Linked DNA regions of Homo sapiens: region 2 is linked to region 1. Evidence: fine-mapped expression QTL. Tissue or cell type: whole blood. Region 1 holds a variant in brackets; the other region holds the start of a gene. All regions are shown on one strand. Distances are between the middles of the regions.

Evidence for each region. PIP is the estimated chance that this variant, and not a neighbour inherited with it, causes the effect.
Region 2: FHIP2A starts here. The variant in region 1 is fine-mapped to the expression of FHIP2A in whole blood (TOPMed, PIP above 0.99).

Annotation. Positions count from the first base shown.
Region 1 is chr10:114,872,831-114,880,937 of GRCh38, forward strand. It overlaps a transcript of FHIP2A not described here. Among named protein-coding and RNA genes, the nearest start is that of FHIP2A, 55 kb to the left of the region's middle. RefSeq lists an enhancer at 7,954-8,107. The variant T/TTGA (reference allele first, on the strand shown) is at 4,163.
Region 2 is chr10:114,817,659-114,825,765 of GRCh38, forward strand. FHIP2A (FHF complex subunit HOOK interacting protein 2A) reads left to right here and starts at 4,122. Exons shown (of 17, transcript NM_020940.4): 1 at 4,122-4,465. The coding sequence starts at 4,421. LOC124902508 (translation initiation factor IF-2-like) reads right to left here and starts at 5,290. Exons shown (of 2, transcript XM_047426127.1): 1 at 3,615-5,290. The coding sequence starts at 4,443. The coding sequence ends at 3,838. RefSeq lists silencers at 3,871-4,180, 4,191-4,540, 4,601-4,820 and an enhancer at 4,526-5,026.

The DNA.
Region 1 (8,107 bases):
AGCAATGATCAAATCAACCTCCAAATCCCCATCCCTGAGGGTCTATTTCCTGGTACCAAGCACTGTAACAGGCACAGCTCAGTTTGGAAAACAGAAACCACACAAGGTACTTCAACAGAGGAAATTTATACAGGGAATTGGGTGTTGGGGGGTGGAATAGCAAAGGAGGAACATTACTGTAATACAGGGCTAAAAATAGCAGGAAGCAGCACCACCTCTAAAGCTGGAGGATTCAAAGGAAAGGAGTTGAGATGATCAGAACCTAGAAGGTTAGGGGATGGGCCCTGCAGGGCTGGTGTTCAGACCTCTGAGGAGTGGTTGCTATTAGGCTTTCTGCAGTGTCTGCAGCTGTTCTTAAGAGTTTCCATATATTTTTGTTGATTTTGGCAGTTTTGAGGAGTATTGGTTGGGTATTTTGTAGGATGCCCTCTATTGGAATTAGTCTGATGTTTTCCTCATGATTAGACTGGGATTGTGGATGTTACAGAGGAGGAATACAGAGATAAAGTGTGATTTTAGTCATATCTTATCAAGAGTACACACTGTCAGCATGATGTTGGGCTTGATCCCCTGGCTGAAATAGTATTTGTCAAGTTTCTCCACTGTAAAGTTATTCTTTCCCTCCCATTTCCATACTGTATTCTCGGGAAGCAAAGTCACCGTAGATAGCTCACACTTCAGAAGTGTAGAGTTAATACTGTATCTTCTTGAGGGTAGAGTATCTGCAAAAAACTGTTTGGAATTATTCTGCAAGGAAGATTTGTGTCCCAAACCCTTTATTTATCCAATCATTTATATCAATACAAACTCATGGATATTTATCTTATACTTTGGGTTATAATCTAATACTATTTCATTGGTTTTGTTGCTCAAATTGTTCCAGCTTTGGCCTTTGGGAACAGTTTCAGTTGGTTCCTGTGTCTCTTTAACATACCCCCATCAATATATGGGTGTTTTGTTTGTTTCTTTTTGTTTTTTAGTACTTCCTTACTTTTGGAGATTACAAAATACTCCCAGCTCATCTCATATGTTTCCTGCCCCAGTCCTAGGATCAGCCATTTCTCCAAGATACATCAGAGTCTTTTAAAACACTGAGTTATTTAGGAATATTCAGGAGGGGGAAAAAAAAAAACAACCCTAAGTTCTGTAGCACTGCATTGACTTGGCATGGTGCTTTGGGTCCAGATAGCCGAGGAAAGGGTATTGGACTAGACACGTGGTATTTATAAAGCCTTTCAACCTAAGCACTCTGAAGACAGGGTAGAGGACATGGATATGCTAACAAAACCATCCAGAATGAGTGACTGAGTGGGAAGCACAGCTGAACTTGTTTGGAGACAAGAGTGTCTATGTTAGCAGAAGGGAAACTTTCATAGTCATCAATATCATACACTTTAACACAGCCACACAAAAGATTTCTACTTTAGATCTTTAATTTTTTTTCCCAAAGGAATCACATCCTAACAGGTTAAAGAAGTTATTCAAAATACAGCTATACACCTGTGCCCCATTACTTATAGCACACTAGGAATGATTACTTTTTACAAATCCTGTAATTAGCTAGTAACTAGCACAATTATATTGCATTATCTCTTTTGTGCTAAAAATATTAACTTGCTAATGATGAGCATTTACAAATGAACTACAAATTGTATAACCTATTTTAGTATTTTTTCGTTTTTCTTTTTGGAGATGGAGTTTCGCTGTTGTTGCCCAAGCTGGAGTGCAGTGGCACAATCTTGGCTCAGTGCAACCTCCGCCTCCCGGGTTCAAGCGATTCTTCTGTCTCTGCCTCCTGAGCAGCTGGGATTACAGGCGCGTGCCACCATGCCCCGCTAATTTTTTGTGTTTTTAGTAGAAATGGGGTTTCACCATGTTAGCCAGGCTGGTCTCGAACTCCTGACCTCAGGAGATCCGCCCGCCTCTGCCTCCCAAAGTTCTGGGATTACAGGCATGAGCCATCGCGCCCGGCCGGAATTTTTTCATTTTAAAATTACTAGGAGACTCAAAAAGCAGAGGTGACTCAGGCCTCTCTAGGCCACAGAGGCCCTTGGATATAGATTTCTCCTTTCTTCTGACAGAAGCGGTTAGCTTAAATCTGTACAGATGAGAACACAATTATTGTAACACAGGAAAACCCACGTTGGTTTTGTACATTCGTGTTTGCTCTGTAAAGGGCAGCGCTCGTGCATCTTCAGCTGTATCTTGAAAGCTTTCCTGTTTCCGAAGCTTGCTTGCATTAAACATGAGGCGCCGCTAAGTGCTGTTGCCACCAGGGACTGCAGGCCGCTCTGCAGCCCTGGATGGGCTCAGTTCCGAGGGAAGGAAGGCGGCCGGCGGAGGCAGTGCTGTGCTGCAGAAGGACTGCTGTGCTGCGGAAGGACTGCTGTGGATTCTGACTGCAGACGGGTCTGATTTGGATGTTTTTTATTACTTAAGCGATTGATCGTTTCTCCTTGCCATCCTGTGAGGAGTGAGGGCATGCCTTGGATCTGTGAGGGAGGAGAAAACCCCTTTTCTAAGAAAGGGGAAGTGAAGAAAGAAGAAGCAAGGATGGTGGAGAAGTAAGAAAGGAACATGGGACCGGGCGCAGTGGCTCATGCCTGTAATCCCAGCACTTTGGCAGGCTGGGGAAGGGTGGATCACCTGAGGTCAGGAGTTCAAGATCAGCCTAGCCAACATGGTGAAACCCTGTCTCTAAAAAAAAATACAAAAGATAGCTGGGCATGATGGCGGGTGCCTGTATTCCCAGCTACTCAGGAGGCTGAGACAGGAGGATGGTGTGAACCCAGGAGCGGAGGTTTCAGTGAGCCAAGATTGCGCCATTGCACTCAAGCCTGGCAATTGAGCGAGACTCTGTCGAAAGAAAAAAAGAAAGAAAGAGAGAGAAAGAAAGAAAGAGAGAGAAAGAAAGAAAGAAAGAGAAAGAAAGAAAGAGAAAAGAGAGAGAGAAAGAAATAGAAAGAAAAAGAACAGAAAGAAAGGAAAGAAGGTAGGAAGGTAAGAGAGAAAGAAAGAAAGAAAAAGAAAGAAAGAAAGAGAAAGAAAGAAAAGAAAGAGAGAGAAAGAAATAAAGAAAGAGAAAGAAAGAAAGAAAGAAAGAGAAAGAAAAAGAACAGAAAGAAAGGAAAGAAGGTAGGAAGGTAAGAGAGAAAGAAAGAAAGAAAAAGAAAGAGAAAGAAAGAAAAAGAAAGAAAAGCTCTAGAAGGAAGAAAGGAGCCTGAGGGGAAAGACTGAGGAGGAAGCAGAAGAGACCCGGGGCCCCCACCCTCCCGCTCACCAGCGCTTTGCCTTGGTGGCTCTGACTCCCCCCTGTCTGGTGGCTGGTCATGCCTCCTCTCCCCTCTCTACCTTCTCTTCCTTCCTACGTTCCCACCTGACTCCAACCCTTTCCTCAGGGAGAACAGAAGGTCCCCAAGGAGCGCTGTGGACCAGGCATGCAGGTCCACGTCATCTCTGGTCCTGCTCCGACCTTTGGCACTGAGCCTCCTAATGCAGGATTTGGCTTGTTCCTGTGACAGCTCCCCCTCATCGCCCGCAACAGGGTACTGCAGTCCAGACTCCATCACTGCTCAGCTCTGGTGCTTTAGGCACCCCACATCACCTCCCCGAGCCTCAGTTTCCTTATCTGTAAAATGGGGATGGTACCAACTACCACAGAGGGTTGTTGTAAGGACTGAACGAGGGCACAGGCCTCCTTCCACACCTGCTACCAAGTAGGTACTGGATGCACGGCAGGCCCTGCCACTGCTTCTCAGAACCCTCTCGGGTTCCTAGGCCTCTTGAACCACAATTGATAGGAATGGGACCTGCCGGGAGCTTTCTGGACAAGCTTCCCAGGGGGCTCAGATGGACTCTCAAGCATTATTTCCAGAGATGAGTCTCTTCTCACCTGCCAGCTCCTGGGGCCAGGGCTCAGCACGGCCCCCTGGTCCTGTCTACTCTGGTGAGACTTCTTCTCTGCTGCCCCTCCCCACAGTGCACCCCACTCGCCTCAGACTTCCGCCCCCGCACAAGGGAAGGGGCTAAACGGAATGTTCCAAATGTTTTGCTATGAATTTACACTCTCCCTCCCTCCTAAACCCTGTAACTATTGACATGTTTATTTATTTTTTCTGTTAAGTTACCGGAATAATTCTAGTTGTGCTCAGCCTTCCCAGTA[T/TTGA]TGAGCAATTCTGCAGCTTTTATCTGCAACTGTTACTCCTGACAGTTAAGAACACGTCTGAAGTTTTGTTCTGTTTATGCCTCCAAGCGTGTTGCCGACACATCCGGGCAAGGACAAACGTACAACGAACTCAAGGGAGCTTTCACAGGCTGGAACGGGCTCAGAGCACCCCTGTTCTTAGAGGAACAATCAATGGGAAGCAAAGGTGTACCCAGGCCTCTCAACAGTTCCCGAGTGCTGTCACTGGAGGGCGATGTCTCCAAACAGTCTCTTTCCCCACTGGGAACGGCGCCGCCCGAGGGTTCAGGTCAAGCACGAGTTTCCAAATTCATTCAATTAGTAGGGCAACTGGAACCCATGCAGCTCCTTCAGAAATCCCGCAAAATATGGATACGCTATTAAGCTGGAGACAACAAAATTACTCAATATAGAATTTTGCATTCAATCAATTATACTGTCAGTATAATTATATAATTATAATTATATATAAGTCTCAATCCTGGCTGAAGGATCGAATCACCTACAAAGGATTAAAAACCATAGCGGTTCGGGCCCCACAAAAGGCCAGTTAAATCTGGAATCTGGAAGATGGAGCAGGGGAATTTGTATATTTTTAAAGCTCCCCAGTGATTCTATTGTTCAGACTACAAAATTCTAATTGAGACATTGGTGGCAGGCACCAAGGGAAAATTTATGGGAGAAAATTTTAATTTTAGACAATTCTATCATGTTTTCTCCTGCAAACTGGTAGAACTGCTTAGCCTAGTTCTGCAAAGGATCAATGGTTGAGAATTTCTGCATGAAGTCATCTTGCGTCTGGAAGCCCATTTTCAAATAATAACACCCTTGGAGAGCTAGCAAGTTGTTAACACCCGTGTGTGAATTATTTTTATCAGATATCAAGGATAGCTAGGATTCTGAGAAAACTGAGACCAGAGAAGCAAAAATTTTTTAAAGGGAAGAGAGAAGAAAATCTACATTGGCTCCTTCCCCCTACTCCCACCTTCCCCCCAATATATAGACTTCTCTTTAACAGTCAGTATTAAAAACTAAAAGAAAATTATCTAGAATCCCTCTATTTCTATTCACATTTTTATGTATTTTCTTTCCAGTACTTCATGCATATATATTTTCTAATCTGTGAGGTCTACATAATTTTGTCTTATCCTTTTTACCTTAACATTATAAGATGACCATTTTCTTAGGGCTTAGAAAAAATTTTAGAAGCATTATGAATGGCTGCCTAGAATCACATTTTGTGAACATACTTCAAATCACAACTACAGTGGAACACGGAGGATCAGTTTCACGCCCACTGGCTAAGAACTCACTGAACTCCCTGGCCAAGCTTAAGTTGGGTGTCCTCACCTAGTCCAACCAACTGAGGCTGAGGATAAGAGGAGTGGGGGCAAAGTCACTCATAGAAGCTGCTGGAGCCCATTTTCATATCTTTGTGGATGGACAATGGGAATCAGGATAGATAAGTCCAGAAAAGAGAAGCCTTGGCTGGGCGCAGTGGCTCACTCCTGTAATCCCAGCACTTTGGGAGGCCGAGGTGGGTGGATCACCTGAGGTCAGGAGTTCAAGACCAGCCTGGCCAACATGGCGAAACCCCGTCTCTACTAAAAATACAAAAATTAGCCGGCCATAATGGCAGGTGCCTGTAATCCCAGCTACTTGGGAGGCTGAGGCAGACAGAAGTGCTTGAACCTGGGAGGCAGAGGTTGCAGTGAGCTGAGATTGTGCCACTGCACTCCAGCCTGGGTGACAGAGACTTCGCCTCAAAAAAAAAAAAAAAAAAAGAAAGAAAGAAAGAAAGAAAAGAAGCCTGGGCAGGTGGCTCATAGGTGTCCTCTACAATCTGTTCTTTCCTAACTCTTTCTTGGCTTTTGCATAGGACACACTATGTTACGAGCTATGTGGGGATCAGGGACAATACTCAAAGGAGCTAAGAATCCAAATGAGGAAACATAACATATATGAAATGAGAAGTTAAATAATAGTAATATTTGCTACATTTTTACAGAACAGCTATTATTATGTGCCAGGCTTATTATTTAATTTACTCTTCAGAATCATTCTATAAGCAAGCTACCAATATTCCATATTTATAGATAAGAAAACTGAGGCTGAGAGAAGTAAAGTCACATTTGTTAAAGGTAACCAGAATTTGAACTCAAGCAGCCAAAGCCCTCACTATTTCCACAGCACTGGGCAATCTCCCAAGACTGCATTGTGATCTGATCTTAATGGAGGAACAGACTCTCAGAAAATTGGGCATCATCTTACAGTGTCTCAAAACAAACAAACAAACAAAAATCCTGCAAATCCTTTAATCCCTATTTTACCTCCCTCCCTTGGGACATGGCTTAGGTAAGCTCCAAAATTAAGTTAGAGAAGGAAACAGATCTCATCTAAAAAATGCAATTATACCACAGCCAGATGAATAAATCCATATGAATACTGAAATACACACATACTCTGAGCACTAATACTTTTCAAGAAAGGTAATGATGCAGGAAAAAAATGTCTATGAAATAGAGCATTTTATAGAGTTCCCAAATTTCTGTCTGTTGAATCTCCCGGAAGTGGCATTCCCCTTTCTTGCAATAACAGACGATTGCTCAAATGCCTCATAAGAAGCGGTGGGCATCGTCAACTGGGGGGCTTTGGTTTTGCAGAGGGACGGGTTTACTTTTGTTTGTTTGTTTTGTTTTTCAGACAGGGTCTCGCTCTGTCACCCAGGCTGGAGTGCAGTGACCCCTGCTGATTGCCTGGCGTAATACAAGGCTGGACCTACAGGAAGACTGACTAGCTTCCTTCGAGCCAATATTCTTTTTTACTTTTTAGACACAGGAGGCTCTCGCGGTGTGCCCAGGCTGACTTGAGCTCCGAGGCTCAAGGGATTTTCCCACTTCAGCCTCCCAAATAGCTGGGACTGCAGGTGCACACCATCATGCCCAGCTATAAGCCAATATCTTTACATATGTATTCCACACTTATTTAGAGGGGTGACATCCGGCATTCAGTGGGGAAGACAATAGTGGTGCTCTAAGCCTTTCCTCTGTTGCCTGTAACCAATTAGCTCTTGCTCCAAACTCACACACTTCACTATACGATCACACAGTGCATGATTCAATTTACATGAAATGCCCAGAACAGACAAATCTATACAGACAGGAAGTAAACTTGGGCTTGCCTAAGGCTGGGGGTTGGAGGCGGGAGGATTGGGGTGATGGCTAAGGAGAGCAGTGCTTCTTTTGGCGATAATGAAAATGTTCTGAAATTATAGAGATGGAAGCACAGCTCCGTGAATATATTAAAAGCCATTGAACCATACACTTTAAATGGGTGAATTGTATAGTATGTGAATTACATCTTAATAAAACTGTTAAAAACCCTTCAGGCTGGGTGCAGGGGCTCATGCCTGTAATCCCAGCACTTTGGGAGGCCAAGGCAGGCAGATCGCATGAGGCCAGGAGTTGGAGACCAGCCTGGCCAATATGGTGAAACCCTGTCTCTAGTAAGATACAAAAAAATAGCCAGGTGTGATGGTGCACGCCTGTAATCCCAGCTACTCTGGTGGCTGAGGCAGGAGAATCACTTGAACCTGGCAGATGGAGGTTGCAGTGAGCCGAGATCACGCCACTGCACTCCAGCCTGGGCAACAGAGTGAGACTCCATGTCAACACACACACACACACACACACACACACACAGATTCCTGGGCCCCTTCCTAGGAATTCAATGTGTTGCATGGGTGTAGATATCTGTATTTTAAGGAAGCACTCCGAGTGATTCTGATGCTGTAGGGCATGAGACAGGCATTTGGAAACCACCATACAAGGCTTCGCTTCAGAGATAAGACAAAAGCTTCCTTTGTTTCCACATTTCCCTATCAGTCCAACTTCCTTGTAGAAGCAGCAACAGGGACCTTCCCTCCTT
Region 2 (8,107 bases), 55 kb before region 1:
GATCCTCCAATCTTTATTATCAGCCCAGATCTCTCTCTTTACTTCCTAATTCAAACTCATCACCCAATACTCTATGTCTCCACATAGATGTAATTGTATAGATAATCAAATTCTAACATATTAAAAAATCCATCTCATCACCTTTCTACATCTCCATGGTCCCTATTCCAATTAATGGCATCTTCAACTAACTTCTTCCAAGCTAGAAACTCCAGCAACATCTTTCACTTCACCAAATCACTCCTTTTATCACTTGGAAAATTTGGTTGATCACATCTCATCTATCAAGACTACCATCTCCTTCCTATTTCTACAGGGATGAACCCTTATAATCCTTGTCTAAACTTACACAAAAGCATCAGAAATGGTTTCCTGCTCCTAGTTTCTCCCCTTGACAAACAAACTTTGTGTTACACCAGCATAGGGTTTAGTTAAGAGGTTTTACAAGGTGTGTTATGAAAGCTTCTGTCCTTCCTCCCAAACTCTCAATCTCCTGTTCCACAGAGGCAACCTCTTTCAAGACTTTTGAAAATATTTTGGGAAAAAATTGTATCTGTACTGAACATGTACAGGTTTTTTCTTGTCATTATTCCCTAAACAATAAAGTATATCAATTATTTACATAGCATTTGTTGTATTAGGTATTATAGAAACCTAGAGACAATTTAAAGTATATTGGAGATTGATGCCTAGGTTATATGCAAATACCACACCATTTTACATTAGGGACTTGAGCATCCTCAGGCTTTGGTACCCTTGGGAGGTCCTGGAACAAAGCCTCCATGGAGGATACCAAGGGATGACTTTTGATTCCTGGCTTTCTTCATTGTTGGCTTAGGATTCAGCTTTCTTAGGTCGGCCACATCAGAGTTAACCCATCTTATGGCTACTTTCTAATTCTGAAAATGCTATTGCTGTTCTCTCCTAACTTATCCTTTTGGGCATATGCTTTGGAAAATCTCTTTACTGTCATTTTAGCGGGATTTGAGGAGGGAATGTTGCTAACAATTGATGTGTTCAACTCACAAATTCCAGAAGTCTGCCAAAATTTGGAAGCAGGTATCATCTAACTCTATTTCTCTTTCTTTTTTAAACTTTTATTTTAGGTTCAGGGAGACATGCGCAGGTTTGTTATATAGGTAAAACTCATGTCATCGGTGTTTATTGTACAGAGTAAACAGACAACCTACAGAATGGGAGAAAATATTTGCAAACTATGCATCTAACAAAGGTCTAATATCCCAGGATCTATAAGGAATTTAAACACATTTATAAGAAAAAAACACAAACAACCCCATTAAAAAGTGCACAAAGGACATGAACAGACATTTTTTAAAAGAAAACATATATGTGGCCAACAAGCATATGAAAAAAAGCTCAATATCACTGATTAGAGAAATGCAAATAAAAACCACAATGAGATATCATCTCACACCAGTCAGAATGACTATTATTAAAAAGTTAAAAAAAGATTTATTTTTATCTCTTTTCTCAACACCATCCCAACTGGGTTCCAATTTTCTAGATTTTTCTGTGTCTTCACTAATTAAACTTCATTTTAGAAAAGGATTTAACAAATTCATTCCCCCTGAAGTCTAATGAATGACAGAGTTTGATGTGTTACATCTCCCAAGAGTATTTTCATTTTAACAAGGACTAAGTTTCTTATTTGGCTTAAGCCAAAGGGATAAAGGCATTAAGTTCTAACTGAGAAATTTCAGGTACCCACACCTAAGTGGTTTGGAGGCTAGGGGAAGGTTTTCTTGTGTTTTCTCAAATCACAGGCTTTGGGGCAGGTCCGACTGTGCCCATGTATTGAGCTAATTGATGATGTCAGAGTCACAGCAGGCATTCTAGGATGACAATCAGAAATAGGAATATCTGCTCAGTTACAATTCTAGTCCAACTTGTGTGTCTTGAAACCTAGACAGCAGGTAGATGAATCACCATCCTAAATATTGATATTAATCTAGAGCAAAACATATATTTTATTGTGTTTATAATAAGTACACAAAGATAGACATCATCAAATACACACAACTCTAACTAAGACCTCCTCATACAATTAGTGGTTGTAAGGCATTTTGGAACTACAAAATGCCATATAAATGCATGATAATTAGATCATGAAACTAATTATGGTTAATAATATGACTAACCATCTTAAACTGTGTATGAATATAATAACAATAAGCATACATACATGCTCTCAGTTGAAGCAGACACGGCCAGAATTTGGTAAGGGGCACAAAACAACAGAGGATGCCTCCAGCATTCTGGGGGTAGTACGTAGAAAATTAAGGTCGTATTTATCTGCCAAGGAGCACCGCAGGGATATAAACCACAAAAACAGGAGGGAAAAGAAGCCCAGTTAAGATCTCCTCCTTAATTCCTGATTTCTGGCCCTATTATTTTGCTAAATACCACTACCACAACTCAGAACAAGTATAAGTGTCTGTGCATCTCTTACTAGGGACTGGGCACTGTTAAAGTGTTTTACATATATTAATTAATTCCCACAACAACCTCAAGAGGTAGGTACTGTTCTCCCCTTTTGACATATAAGCAAATTAAAACACAAAGAAGTTAAATAACTTTCCACTGTGGGTGGCAGAGCTGGGACTTAGGCTACCCAGCCCCAGAGCCTGGCCAGTTACCACCACTCCATATGACAGCCACCTTTTCTCTGTTCCATGAATCAATTACAGATATATATACGTGTGTGTGTGTATACATGTATATATACGTATGTGTATATATACGTTTGTGTATGTATAAACGTATGTGTGTGTATACATGTATGTGTGTGTGTGTGTGTGTGTGTGTGTGTGTGTGTGTGTATTTTTTTTTTTTTTTTTGAGATGGAGTTTTGCTCTTGTTGTCCAGGCTGGAGCGCAATGGCGCAACCTTGGCTCACTGCAACTTCCGCCTCCCGAGTTCAAGGATTCTCCTGCCTCAGCCTCCCAAGTAGCTGGGATTACAAGCATGTAATCCCATTACACCACCACGTTCGGCTAATTTTTTTTTTTTTTTTTTTTTTGTATTTTTAATAGAGACGGAGTTTCACCATGTTGGCCAGGCTGGTCTCGAACTCCTGGCCTCAAGTGATCCTCCCGCCTTTGCCTCCCAGAGTGCTGAGATTACAGGCGTGAGCCACCGCGCCTGGGCCAGATACGTATTTTCAGCACTGGTTGTGCAAAACTCACTCCCCACCTCATCTTAAGAACTTAATGAACCTTTTGGTAAAACGCCAATACCAGCATAAAACAAATTTCTTCAGGATACAAATATTTTCATAATTTGTATTAACTCAACCTAAACTTTACCAGCCTGAACTGCTTCTTCAAGGCTTGACTAATACACTGTTAGGGAGTATTTTAAGCAGCCTCCACCCAAGTGCTTACCTTGTAGCTCTATTTATCTGCCTTAGGCATTTACTGGACTCCTTTCAGATTCTTTCCCTCGCTAATGTTTTCCGGTATCATCTGATAACTGAATAGAAAATGCTGTTCTGAATCACTACACCTCACTATCAACCATATCACAAATAAATTATGTTATATATTATATATAAATATTATAATGGGCTATTTAAACTAAGCCAGCCGTCTTACCATGTGCTCATGTGGGATTTCCTGTTTCAATGTTGAATAATAATATATTTTAAAGTTAGCAAAGCCATTTCACCTGCAGTCGTTGATTTCTTCAAAATCTGAGCATTTAAATCCATTGCCAATGTTTGCTTAAAGAACACTGTTTTCTTAACGAGTCTTCCAAATCGGTCCTTACAGGAAGAACCTCTGAATGCTATACGCATATATGGACGGCTGCGTGTCCCTACAAAGTCAGCCTGTTACTTCCACTGGAGAAACAAAACTCTTGAGAATCGCTGAGCTGTAAAAATGTTAGAAAGCCGGTGTCCCAGGCGCCCTGAGAAAGCCGGGAGAGGGCGGTGGCTGCCCACAGGCCGCCTCCAGCCCCGCGCGAGGCCGAGGCCTCAGCGCGCCCCCCGCCCCCGCGGCGCCTAGCGGCCCCGCCGCAGGGCAGGCCTGGCCGGGCCTCCCCGGGCTGCGGCGGCGCCCCCTGCAGGCCGCGGCGGGCAGAGCGGGGGGAAGGAACCCGAGCCGGGCTGCCACCGTGTCCCAACCGGTGCCGCCGCCGGAGCTTCTCCGGGCCCCGAGTCCTCGCCGAACGCCCTCCTCGCCGCCCGCCGCGTCCCGGCGCCCTCCGGAGCCGCCGAGCCGCCCGCGCACACCTGAAGCGGCCGGGCCAGGCCCTGCCTCGATCCTCAGCTCGTCCTCCCCGCCCCGCACCGGCCTTCACTCTGGAGCGGCCCCGGCAGCCGCAGCAGGGGCGGCGGCGGCGGATCGAGGAGCTCTCCAGGTCGTCCCGGGAGAGGCTGCTGCAGTCCCGGGACAGGATGTTCTCCAAGTTCACCTCCATCCTGCAGCACGCCGTGGAGGCGGTAAGGCCGCGGGCTGCGGGCGCACGGCAGGCCGGGGATGGCGGCGGCCTACGCTCCCCGGCGGCCTCGGGGACAAGCCGGGCGGCCTTGGCCCGGCCCTCGGCGGCCCTGTCCCCGGTTGGGGTGAGGCCCCAGGCGGGCGCCCTGGGCGGCCGCCGGGTCGTGGGGGCGCCCGGGGCCTCGGGCCTGGCTCTGCGGGGGTCCCGTCGGTCCCTGGCTGCCCCAGGCCGGCAGTCCCTGCCCTCCTCCAGGAGCCGGGGCGGGGGTGCCGGGGAGGACCTGGCCGCCCAACGCCGCTCGGTGGTCGCCTCATTCCTCTGATGGGGCCGGGGGTTCGGGGAGCACCTGGCGGGGTCGCAGAGAGCTCCCCCGGGCTCCCTTAACGTTAACCTTCTCCGGAAAAAAAGTGGTCAGCGTTGAGCAAGACAAAAGAAACGAGCAAGCACCGCTTGGGCTTGGTTCTGTTTTGTTTTGGTTTTCGGGGGTAGAGGTGGGAGAGGCATGGTCTCGCTGTGGGGCGTCCCTGGCGAGGGAGCCGCCGACCAGCCCCCGGGTTGCTGGCTTTTGCTTTCTTGGGCCTGGAGGCCGAACTCAGCTGAACCTTATGTATTGATCTGAAATAGGAGTTTGGAGGGTCCAGTCGAGTTTGCTTTCGACAGCTTCCAAGCTCACCGAGCCCAGAGACCATCTGTTTCCTTTCTTGTCTAGTTCTCTTCCTGGACACTCTTCGTTTATCCTGCAATTGTACTCTCCTTTGAGGGTTTTAGACACCAGCATAGAGACAGTATTCAAGTATCCTAGTAGACTAATAAGTGAAAAGAAACTAAAAAGAAAATGCCTTGTCACTGTTCTAGTAAGAATGCTAGTTGCTTCACTTGTTTACTTTATTCTGGGAGAACTGCCCAAATTGAAAAATGCATTCTGTGCAGAAACAATTACTTTGCTAATTTTTAACATGACATTCTCTTCCTATGTTCATATTATGTGATAGGACACTTTAAAATGTACACTTTAAAAATGTCAGATACAACAATGATTTTTTATGGGCAGGCAAAAATGGAGTTTTTGCCTTCAGTAATAAAAACAAACTTTAGTACAATTGTTATTTAAGTGATACATGAGAAGCGTTAAAAAATTTAGCTCTAGGGCAAGCTCTTGGGAAAATGTATCAAACAGGAAAAACAGGGTTTCATAAATGTAGAGCAGTATTACACGGAGGGAAATGACAGTGGTAGACTTCAAGACAACTTTTAGTTTTTACTTGCTTATACACACTCTACTTTTGTTGAAAGAATTTAACTGCAGTTTATTAAAACATTTAAATTTTGTTTTCTTTAAAAATACCAAGAATCATTTAATTTTATTTATTTATTTATTTATTTATTTTTTGAGACCGAATCTCATTCTGTCACCCAGGTTGGAGTGCAGGGGTGTGATCTCAGGTCACTGCAACCTCCGCCTCCCGGATTCAAGCGATTCTCCTGCCTCAGCCTCCCTAGTAGCTGGGATTACAGGCACCCGCCACCACACACGGCTAATTTTTTTTTTTTTTTTTAGTAGAGATGGGGTTTCACCATGTTAGCCAGGCTGCTCTCGAACTCCTGACCTCAAGTGATCGCCCGCCTTGGCCTCCCAAAGTGCTGGGATTACAGGTGTGAGCCACCACACCCGGCCCGAATCATTTTAACCTTGAATATATGAAATACTTGGGAACACTTAATGAGATACTTGGTAATCAAAATTTACTATATTGCAGTCAGCTGTCTTATCCGTAGGCTCTGCACCTGTGATTTAACCAAACTCAAGTAAAAAAATATTTGAGGGGGAAAAAAATTCTGCAGAGTTCCAAAAAGCAAAACTTGAATTTGCCATATTCAAGTACTGCCTTGAATCCATGTGAATGAAGTGATGTGTAGGCATTGTATTAGGTATTAGAAGCAATCTAGAGATGATTTAAAGAATACAGGTATGCATAGGTTATATGAAAATATGCCATTTTATAACAGGGACTTGAACATCCTCAGATCTTAGGGGTAGGAAGAGATGTCCTGGAACTAGTCCCCTACAGATACCAACTATATTTATATCCTTTACCCATCAGGCTAGTATTTACAGAAATAAGTACTTAGAAAAAGAAAGACGGCTTTCCTGCTCTCCTAGTAAAGGCTCATTTTTATCCGGAGGCCTGTGTTTTCTTGTCCTCGTTATCTTTTTATAATTGTATATATTAGCATCTGCCAAATTATCTGGCTCCTGCTCTGTAATATCCTTAGCCTACTTTGCTGAGGTTAGTGAGAAAAAGTTAGAGTGGCTTGTGTTCACCTAGTCCTGAAATTAATGCATTGCATTTAGAAGTGTAATGTTTTCATTTGCTTAGACCTAATGTTTTCATTTGTGGCACCACCCATCTTATCTTGATAGGAGGTTAAATCTCATGAAAAATGTTTGATGTTCTATACTAACCTTTTTTTCCCCCCTTTTAACATTCTCTCTTGGGAATGAACTCATGTGCAATGATGAATAAGCCATCCTTGTGTATTTGGATAGTTTTTTCGTAGCCCAAGGTTAGTTTCCAGTTATTCAGTTCTGTTTATTAATTTGCTTGATATTTTCCTCTATGAACCAATCTTACCATTCCTCAGTTCATTTCATTAGCTCTTCTGTGTGTTCCTGTTCATGTGTACGTCCAATTAGCATTTCCTGATGCAGTATTCCAATTAACATAGTTATCAGGATTATACAGAGACAGAAAATACCTGGATGCTGACATGAGCTTTTTTCATTATTTTGTTGGATCAGTCTGTGGAGTAATGCTTTTCCAACCATTTTGGTATGATTACTTTCCAGGTTTCCTTATTTAATTGATAAGCCTTCAAATGGGTTTTTAATTTTTAATTAACTATTTACTTATTTTTCGAGACAGGGTCTCTGTCACCCAGGCTAGAGTGCAGTGACATGATCATGGCTCACTGCAGCCTCAACCTCCAGGGCTCAAACGATTCTCCTGCCTCAGCCTCCTGAGTAGCTGAGACTATAGGCCAGCACCACCACACTCAATTTTTAAAAAAATTTTTTGTAGACACTGGGCCTCACAATGTAGACACTGTGCCCAGGTTGGTCTCACATTTTTGGGCTTGAGTGAGCCTCCCACCTCCATCTCCTAAAGTGCCAGGATTATAGGGATGGAGCCATCATACCTGGCCCAAATAGTTTTTTTAGTGTTGACTGGATGTATTCATTTAAGTGAGGCTTAAACATAGAGTTTATCTTACTGTTTAATTAATGGTTTCTCCTCACTCCCTGGCAACTACTTATAACGTGAAAAATATGACTAAGATATTTTCCAAAATTAATATTTGAAAATGTGTTGTTAAGCTGATAGACTGCATTTTGAGTATGGAAGATAAGTTCACACCTTCTTGATTAAAAACAAGAACTGTAATGTAACTCCTGCCTCCCTTTTTAGAAATGACAGTCTTCTCTCAGTACAGAAATGATTGGCCAGTAAGAGTCTTATGAAATGAATCTGTTAGCCAGTTGCCGCATGTCACAAGTCTGAATTCAGGCCTTTCTTGTAGTTAGTTCCGGGGTTAGATTGGATTGTTTTAACACAACTTCTTCAAAAGATAGATAAAACACTTT